Homo sapiens: one gene and its partner. The protein of the gene in region 1 purifies or fractionates together with the protein of each later gene. This does not show direct contact. Each region holds a gene or a part of one and is shown on either strand. Other genes may lie near its edges.

Region 1 (4,915 bases):
GGCAGGATCTGGTAGAGCAGGGCCTCAGCCTTGCGCTTCTCCTCCAGGTATGCCTGGGTCCGCTCCTCCACCAGTTCCTCCAGATTGTTCGCGTACTGCTCCATGCGGGACAGCAGGTTGTCCAGGATGTTGCTGCTGTTCTCCCTGGGGGCAGAGGGTGGCGGTGGGGGTGGTAAGAGAGGAGCAGCACAGCCTACCGTGAGCGCCCGCCCCTAGGCACTTCCCCCTCCAGACTGCAGTGAGGTCTCTAGAGACGCTCAGGGTTGAGGGCATAGCAGGATACCGGGGAGCAGGGGAAAACAGAAGGAAGAAAGTTCAATTCTTTTCTGAGACCCCAAGGTCAAGTATGAAGCTTCAGACATATGGACATTTTGTTCATCTTTGTTGAACCCAGTGAGTTAGAAGGAGGTAAAGGAGGTGGAGAATGACAAGGGTCAATTGCGGACAAAGTGATGTCCACAGAAGGGTGTGTCTGGAGGAACTGGGCCTGGTGGGCACGCTGGGGAAGGGAAATCAAGGGGTGGGGCAGGAGCTCCCGTGGAGGGCCAAGAGCCTACAGGGCAGGAGGCGGGAGGCCCATCTATCCTACACACTGCTGAGAAGTCTAGAGGCCAGCAAGGCGAGTGGGCAGGAAGGGTGTGGGGTGTCGATGGTGGAGGGAAGGGGCATGAATGGCAGGGGACTGTGGGGACAGCTGAGTCATGCTGTACTTGCGAAGAGGGTCATGAGGCTGTGCTGAGCTGGAGCTGACTATGTACAGGGAGGAGGTGAGTGGTCTCCCTCTGCCACTGCTGGGATAAGCCAGAGCCAGAAGCATTAGGTAAATGGTGGCTGTGGAGGAAGGGCCTGGGGGATCCATGACAAACACCAGGGACCTGTTAAATTTGCGCAACGTCAGGCGGATCTGCTGGAATGGTGGCCTCTCCTGTGGGTCCTCAGCCCAGCACCGCTGCATGAGCAGCCCCAACTCCTCCAGGTGACTCTGCAGGGCCAGGGAGGGCCGGAAGGGGGGCTGCTCACCCCGAGTCACCCGCTCGATGATCTCTGTATTGGGGGGGTAGAGGAGCTGAGGGGTGGGGCTGGCCAAGGGCCTAGTGAGAGACTGGGGCAACCAGCTGAGATGGCAGGGGAAGTCCAAGACCAAGGCATGGGGGCGGGGGACTGGTCACTGGCAGCAATGGGTCAAAGGGTGGTGACTGAACCCCATTACAGAAGGAAGGTGTGGTGGTGCTGCCAGGGGACCCTCTCCCTGGGGCTGGGGTTCGTTGAGACTGTGGCTGGGTTTAAGGAAGGTGTGCTCCTCTCACCTTTGGGGCTCAGGTCCAAACCTTCCACGTGGAAGACCCCACTCCTCAGGGCAATCTCCTGAAGGATGATCCCAAAGCTGTATACGTCACCAGCCTGGGAGCCCCGCACAGGGGGTGAAGCCATTCGCAGGAGCTCAGGGGCCGTCCACAGCTTTTCTGTGGGTCAGAGGTCGGTAGTCACCGAGTGAGGGAGCCCAAAGCTAAGGGGTGAGGGGGAAACAAGGGTGTGGCCGAAACTGATCTGGATGCATCACAGAGTGTTAGAGCTAGAGGAGGCCTTAGAAACCACTTCGTCTGGCCTTCCCTTTTTCATGGGTGAATGAATTGAGGCTGGAGTCAGGACAAGCATGCCCAAGCCCATCAGAGGCCTTGCATCAGTCTCCCTACTGGGTGGTGCTGGGGGCAGGTGTTAGGTTCAAGAGTCAAGGCTCACTGGCATAAACGGTGTGTCCTTGCTCTGGGTCCAGGTCCCTGAAGCTCTCCAGCCCATAGTCGGTGATCTTGAGCACAAAGCGCCCATCTACCACGCAGTTGGATGACTTGAGGTTCCCATGGGAACAGATAGCCCCATTGTGTAGAAACAGCATGCCCTGGAAATGTGAGTGGGCAGAGGTATTGGCCAGGAGTGGGACCTACACCCGTGGCCAGGAGAAGCATGCCTGGCCCCTGCTCTACACATCCAATAGGTGCTTAGGGGCATACCTTGACGATGTCATTGGTGAGTGAGTACCGGAACATCCAGTCCAGGGTGATGCTCTCATTCTCCAGAATGTCCTGCTGGGGCAATAAGAGTCAGACCAATCCCCTGCAGATCCCCCTGGGAGTTGGAGGAGGGTGCAGGGTCCTACTGATGTGAACTGGTAGAACAGGACAAAACTTTGGATTGACTCTAGTGCCACTGCCCTTCCCCAACTCCCATTTTTACAGATGGGGCCAGAAAGGTCAGAAAGAGGGCGAGGCATGCCTGGGGTCTTATGGCCAGTCAGGGGCAGAGCCAGGGCTAGAACCCAGGTTTCTTGACACCCCTTGTCCCCCTCACCTGCAGGCTCCCACGGGGACAGTACTCTGTGAGGATGCAGATATTGGGGGGGTCGGTGCAGGCTCCCACAAACCTGGTCAGGTGTTCATTCTGCACATCCCGCATCTGCAAGTGGGACCAGCATCAGGAGCTTGACAGAGACCTCGCTCCTCACCAAGCTGCTCACTAGCTTCAGGGACCCTCACTCTTCTTAACTCCTTATTCACTTTCTGCAACCATCACTAAGATCTTCCCTGGTGATTCCCACCCATGTCCTTTAGCCCACCCTCCCCAGAATCTGCTCCTACTCCCTCTGCATCCTAAGCCCTCTCTCCCCCAGGGACATCACATATGGCCCCTCAAGATTCCTCCAGGTTATCTCCAGTGGTCTCTTCTCCTAGCTTAGGATACCCCCACTCCCACCCACAAGATGAAGGTCCATCCCAGGGCTCCAGTCCCTGCCCCTTTCTTGGGGTACCCTGAGGTCCCTCCATAACTAGTTCTGTTGGCCAGTCTCCCTTGCGTCCCCGAGGGCCCCTTCTCCATGCCACTGCCTCACTCCCCACATTACATGCTTCAGTTCAAACAGGACTTTTCGTGTCAGCTCAATGCGTTTACGGTTCACACGTTTCACAGCCACGAGGTTGCCCTGGGCATGGAATGGAGACTGTCACTGTGAAGAGCATGGTCCCATGTCCTGGGAATTCCAGCTGCTCCCGACAGCCCATCCCTGCCCTCAGGACCCTCACTTGTTCCCAATAGCCCACCCCCAGGGCCCCCATCTGCTGCTCCCCACCAGCTTACTCCTTCCCTCAGAACCCCCCACCAGTCCTCCATCAGAGTACACTCCTGCCCCAGTCCCAAGGCCCAGTGATCTTTCCCCAGGCCCACCTTATAATATGCTGTCTTGGCAAAGACTTGGAACTGGCCCTCTGTGGTTAGCAGGGAGCCGTAATTGGAGCCTCTCTGAAAGGAGGGAGAGCAGGAGGAATGGTCAGCCGGTGGGCCCAGTCTGCATCCTGATTGCTTGTGCTCTGGTCTTTATTTCCCTGCCTTATCCTGCCTTATCTTTGTGTCACCCTTCCTTTTTGTTGTTGGGTTTTTTTTTGAGATGTAGTATCATTGTGTCATCCAGGCTGGAGTGCAGTGGTGCTATCCTAGGTCACTGCCGCCTCAGACTCCTGGGCTCAGATGATCCTTTCACCTCAGCCTCCAGAGTAGCTGGGACTACAGGTATGCGCCACCATGCCCTGCTAATCTTTGTATTCTTTGTAGAGACGATGTCTTGCTCTGTTGCCCAGGCTGGTCTTGAACTCCCAGGCACAAGCAATCCTCCTGCCTCGGTCTCCCAAAGTGCTGGGATTGCAGATGTGAGCCACTGTGCCTGGCCCACCCTGCTTTATGTTCCACATCATAAAATTTCCTCCTCATTTACTTTTTTTTTTTTTAAAGTGTTTTCACAGGTACTATCTCCTCTGACCTTTAAAAGAGCCCTGTGAGGGAGGCTCTGCTGCTGTAATCATCATCTGAGACAGTCTCGGAGAGGGACTATGAGTCGCTCAAGGTCACACAGCAAGTGAAAGCAGAGCTGGGACTAGAATCCTGCTCCCTTACCTATCCCTCAGGCACTGCCCCTTGTACCCACCTCTCCTTTATTGCCCCCCAACACAAACACCAGCGTTCTTACCCCGCTCAGGGTCAGCCGGCTGCCTGCACTCCGCAGGTGCCTCTCAAGGCTACTGGGCTCAACGTCCTCCCAGCGCACCCGCCACAGCTCCGAGGCCAGTTCCTTCTCCAGCTGCATCTTCCTGGGATACGAAGGCTGCATCTGAGCCTGTGGCTGAGCCGCTGACCCAGGGCAGGGTGCTCAGCAGCCCCTCCTCAGAGCCGTGGGACCACACCATGCACTCAGAGATGGAGGGGGAATTCTATCCTCTGGACTGAGAATCAGGATGGCTGGGGGAAATTCTGCCTTACTGGGGACCTTGGGGGAATCACCTCAATGTCCTTACTTGGGAATGAGGCCGCAATATCTATTTCATTCTTAACTATTATAAGAATGAAAAGAAATAGTGAACATGAGGCCAGGCACAGTGGCTCATGCCTGTAATCCCAGCACTTTGGGAGGCCAAGGTGGGTGGATCATGAGGTCAAGAGATCGAGACCATCCTGGCCAACATGGTGAAACCCTGTCTCTACTAAAAATACAAAAATTAGCTGAGCGTGGTGGCATGTGCCTGTAGTCCCAGCTACATGGGAGGCTGAGGCAGGAGAATTGCTTGAAACTGGGAGGCGGAGGTTGCAGTGAGCCTAGATCATGCCACTGCACTCCAGTCTGGCAACAGAGCGAGACTCCGTCTCAAAAAAAAAAAAAAAAAAAAAAAAGAAAGAAAGAAATAGTGTACGTGGAAGTGCCTGGCACACATTATATGCTCAACCAGCAGTGATTTTTCTCCCCTCCCTCCTTGCTTTTGTATATCATTAACTCCTCCTGTACTTCATTTTAGCCTCCACTGGACGGCAGGAACAAGGCTCATTCAGCTCCCTTCTCCATTCTAGGTTGGGCACCTGGCACACACCAGGGCTCACC
Region 2 (4,915 bases), on another chromosome or scaffold:
AAGCTCCACAAAACATACATATTTGCTGCCATGTGAAATAAGGAGAAATGACTGAATGTTGACAGCAACATTGGAGAACAAAGGACCTCTACAAGAGAGAGAAACATAGTCTGGTAATCATGAAACACACAGCCAATAAAAATTATCCATTTTAAACTTTTAAAATTAGGCCGGACGCAGTGGCTCACGCCTGTAATCCCAGCACTTTGGGAGGCCAAGGCAGGCGGATCACTAAGTCAGGAGTTCAAGACCAGCCTGGCCAACATAGTCAAACCCCATCTCTATTAAAAATATAAAAATTAGCCAGGTGTGGTGGCGCACGTTTGTAATTCCTGCTACTCGGAAGGCTGAGGCGGGAGAATCACTTGGACCCAGGAGGTAGAGTTTGCAGTGAGCCAAGATTGAGCCACTGCACTCCAGCCTGGGCCATAGAGCGAGACTCTATCTCAAAAAAAAAAAAAAAAAAAAAATTTATGAAACAAACATGGAAAACAAAAACAGCTATTTTTAAGACTTTTTTTTTTTTTTGGAGAGAGTCTTGCTCTGTCGCCCCAGGCTGGAGTGCAGTGGCACGATCTTGGCTCACTGCAGCCTCAACTTCCTCAAGTTGAGGCTCAAGGGCTCAAGTGATCCTCCCACCTCAGCCTCCTGAGTAGCTGGGACCACAGGTACATACCCCATGCCCAACTAATTTTTGTATTTTTAGTAGAGATGGGGTTTCACCATGTTTCCCAGGCTGGTCTCGAACTCCTGAGCTCAAGCAGTTCACCTGCCTCAGCCTCCCCAAGTGCTGGGATTATAGATGTGAGTCACTATGCCCAGCTTAAGACATCATTTTTAAAAGTGACAAAAAGCTGTCTTAATAAATCTCTTTTCTACTTAGTAAGCAACCAATAAAAACTCTCAGTTCAATGAAAGCAACTTGTCCTTATGGCAAAAGTTGATTAGAAAAAAATAAGCAGTCTGGGCAACATGGCAAGACCTCATCTGCACTAAAAACAAAAAAAATTAGCTGGGCATGGTGGCATGCACCTGTAGTCCCAGCTCCTGGGGGCTGAGGTGGGAGGATCAGTTGAGCCTGAGAAGCAGAGGTTGCAGTGAGCCAAGATCGTATCACTGCACTCTAGCCTGGGCAACAGAGCAAGACCCTGTCTCAAAAAATAAAATAAAATAAAATAAAAAGTAAATTGGCCGGGCGCAGTGGCTCACGCCTATAATCCCAGCACTTTGGGAGGCTGAGGCGGGCGGATCACGAGGTCAGGAGATCGAGACCATCCTGGCTAACATGTTGAAACCCCGTCTCTACTAAAAATACAAAAAAATTAGCGGGGCGTGGTGGCGGGCACCTGTAGTCCCAGCTACTCAGGAGGCTGAGGCAGGAGAATGGCATGAACCCGGGAGGCGGAGCTTGCAGTGAGCTGAGATCACGCCACTGCACTCCAGCCGAGCCAGGCAGATCACCTGAGGTCAGGTGTTCAAGAACAGCCTATCCAACACGGTGAAACCCTGTCTCTATTAAAAATACAAAAACTAGCTGGGTGTGGTGGCGGGCACCTGTAATCCTAGCTACTAGGGAGGCTGAGGCAGGAGAATCACTTGAACCTGGGAGGTGGAGGTTGTAGTGAGCTAAGACTGCACCACTGCACTCCAGCCTGGGCAACAGAGGAAGACTCCGTCTCAAAAAAAACAAAGAAAAAGAAAAAGAGAGGTGAGGTCCCTGTCCTCAGTGAAGGAGCTTACAGCCTATCCTCTGCATTTTGCTTGTAGCTATTGATAGGTAATTCGTCTTTTTTACAGCACTTCCATTAACTAAAGCATATTTCTTTCATATTATTTCTACCTTAAAATAAATTCACACAAGTTAGACTTACTTGAGGCTGGATTCGATGTGAAATATCTGATCATTGTCCGCTGCAGAGAAGGTACTCTCCATAAACAGAATACAAGGACATTTGCAGCTATAATACCTACAAAATAAATATTTATAATTTAGGGAGGTTAAAAATGAAAGCAGGAAAGTCTGATCTACATTACCCCCTTGTAAGATTCTTCCACAATTATGTAAGAGTACTGTATACCTGGGGGATAGGGGGTGAGCCAAAAAAAAGCAAGTGAAATGAATGCTTTTAAAGTATCAGCACTGCCTAGGGTTGGTAAAGTCACAGAATTCCTGGGAAATTGTAAATGCTCTGGGAGCTAACTTCCTTTCCCTAGATCCATATTTTACTTCTTTAGAAGAGCTTACTTTTCTCAATTATAATCAGATCAATAATTTATTGTCTATAATAGCCAAACCAAAGACAGAAGTAATATACAGAATTAGGTTCTTTGGCCAAGAGTAGAAGAGCTAACATTACTTCTTTTTCCTCAGGGCATGGTATGCTTCTTAAACTTACTGCCAGCTTATGGAAACATATGTGAGTCATCTGTGTAGGTGAAGGTCAACATGTCTGAGAAAAATAGTCATGTGATAGGAATTCAGGGATAATTTAGAAAACCTCTGCAACTGCTTCTAAAGTCTGTTTACATGTGGGAGTTGAGTGACTTTCCTTTTTCTGTAAGTGTTGATGTTGTTAGTACTACGAAATTGAGGTTTATTCGATAATATAATTAACTTGTTACATTTTAGATAAGAAATTATTATTGAAAACTACAAACTTCAAAAAATATATTAATTTTATGAATTGCCACAACTCCTTCACATAGCAGGTATTCCTCTACTTGTTGAATTAAAATAAACATTTGTCATTCCTCCAGTCTCTGTAGGCAACAGGCAAGTAGCACTTTCACCTTCTTCGATGCCAATAAGGACTGATTTCAATAACATACTGGTAAGAGGATTTACTTTAGAAAACATTCTTTGTCTTGTCCCTGGCAGCTGATCTACATCTCGGTGTTACCTGTGGCTTCCGCAGTTGCTCATTCTGTAAGGTTCTCAGCTAGCCCCTGGCATTTCTAGTCTGTCCAGTTTTTGCTCTCCCACTTGAGAGGTGGGAAAGGAAGCTACATTTTTCACAGATCTTAAGACATTTTTTCCATTTTAATATCTGAAATCAGGATGCATCTTATAACTGGTAGCATTTTTTCTTTCTCCGTAGTACATTAAATAAAATTTTACTGCATTTTGTTGAACTGATTCCATCAGTTGTATCAGATGTCTCACTAGCAGGGACTGTGACAGCATTATACCACCTTTGGTAAATAATTACCCAGAACTCTTTTAAAGATGGTGAGAGGGACAGCATTTATGCAAAGATGGGAAAAGGGATCATACACAAGGCAATGAAGAGCGAAGAGCACTGTGTACACCTCCCAATGTGGAGCCTGGAACCCTGGGAAGGGCAGGCGGGCAGAGCCTCCTCACAGGGACTGGAGTCTTGGGAGGTTTACCCTATAGGAAGAGAGCAGTGATTCGTGTTGCTCTGGATTCCTTAGATTCCTTTGGGAGAGTTAATCATCTTTACTACCCAGAGTGCACCCTTAGGTCTAGGTTGTCATACCCAGTGATTGATATCTTAGGGTAAAGACGACCTGAGAATGGTCTGGCCATGATCATAAAGATCGGATTGCTATGATCATGATCAGTCAGGGCTTTGGTGTTTTATTCTAATTGTGGTTCAAGGCAAAGAGAGCAAGATGGGGTCCCTGATCCTGCCTACTAGGCTGAAAAATGGCAACGACTACTCTGCTTCCTCTGTCAGTTCCATGGGCAACTTCCTCAAACCACAGACACACAGCACACCCAGCTTCTGGAAACCACAGGCACCACAGCACTGTCAAGACGAGGATATGTTTCTGGATAAAGTGATTAAAATAAAGGAAAATACATGAAAAAAAATGAAAGATAAAGGCCGGGTGCGGTGGCTCACGTCTGTAATCCCAGCAGTACTTTGGGAGGCTGAGGCGGACGGATCACCTGAGGTCGGGAGTTCGAGACCAGCCTGACCAACATGAAGAAACCTCGTCTCTACTAAAAATACAAAATTAGCTGGGCGTGGTGGTGCATGCCTGTAGTCCCGGTTACTCAGGAGGCTGAGGCAGGAGAATCACTTGAACCCAGGAGGCGGAGGTTGAGGTGAGCCGAGATCACGCCATTGCACTCCAGCCTGGGCAACAAGAGGGAAACTGTCTCAAAAAAAAAAAAAGCGGGGGGAAAGATAACCAAAGACATTGAGGTTAACAGTAGACAAAGAGTTAACACTGCTAAGTTTTCAATCCAAACGCAAGAAGCTTTTCTGATAAATAATGAGTACTGGCACTGAAACAGACTGTAGCCAAAATCCCTTACTTCATAAGCCAGTGGTCATCAAACTGCTTTCATGGGGCACCCCATTAGTAAACACCATCCATTAGTAACAGACACATCCCATATATGTATACTTATTAACAAATTATGTACGTGAACCACTATAAATTCATAAGACACACTTAACAAATTTAAAAGAAATAAGAAAAGTGAAATGCACATACTTTCTTCTTTGTAAACCCTATTCTGAAGGCCAGTTATAGATGAGAAAAACAGGCTCTAAAAGGTACAAGTTGTCAGAGGGCCAAATTCAGTGGCCAAGCCAGAATTCCTAATCTAGTGCTCTTTCTACTATACATCAAGACATGGGTAGCCAGGAGGATTTATTTTGACCTTGGTCACTCTAGGACTTCAGACACCACATAAAAACGGCTTCCTTGCTGGGAAACAGCATATGCTGGTCCCCAGAAGCGGATGAGCATGAGAGGATGTGTGGCAATCCTAGGCCTACTGAGGCAGTACTGCATTTTGGCTAAAAGTATGGGTGAAGGAGTCCAGCAGAAGTGACTCTGTCCTACTTACATTATAACCTGGGGAAGAGGCCTAACCGCTCAGCTTGTTTCCTCTTCTGTAAAATGAGAATAATAAAATCTACCTGAAAGGGTTGAA

The links. The genes of interacting proteins can lie anywhere in the genome.
Region 2: the proteins of NPR1 (region 1) and PARL purify together in Homo sapiens (affinity purification with western blotting; one study listed by BioGRID). This does not show direct contact.

The regions. Positions count from the first base shown.
Region 1 is NC_000001.11:153,684,182-153,689,096, reverse strand, and holds part of NPR1 (atrial natriuretic peptide receptor 1 precursor), read right to left. Parts: intron 4,134-4,915; coding exon 4,013-4,133; intron 3,292-4,012; coding exon 3,217-3,291; intron 2,975-3,216; coding exon 2,897-2,974; intron 2,452-2,896; coding exon 2,347-2,451; intron 2,082-2,346; coding exon 2,010-2,081; intron 1,898-2,009; coding exon 1,741-1,897; intron 1,508-1,740; coding exon of another isoform or gene 1,485-1,507; exon of another isoform or gene 1,464-1,484; coding exon 1,308-1,463; intron 1,045-1,307; coding exon 876-1,044; intron 145-875; coding exon 1-144. UniProt on the Homo sapiens protein: Receptor for the atrial natriuretic peptide NPPA/ANP and the brain natriuretic peptide NPPB/BNP which are potent vasoactive hormones playing a key role in cardiovascular homeostasis.
Region 2 is NC_000003.12:183,842,360-183,847,274, forward strand, and holds part of PARL (presenilin-associated rhomboid-like protein, mitochondrial isoform 1 precursor), read right to left. Parts: intron 1,968-4,915; coding exon 1,872-1,967; intron 89-1,871; coding exon 1-88. UniProt on the Homo sapiens protein: Required for the control of apoptosis during postnatal growth. Essential for proteolytic processing of an antiapoptotic form of OPA1 which prevents the release of mitochondrial cytochrome c in response to intrinsic apoptotic signals.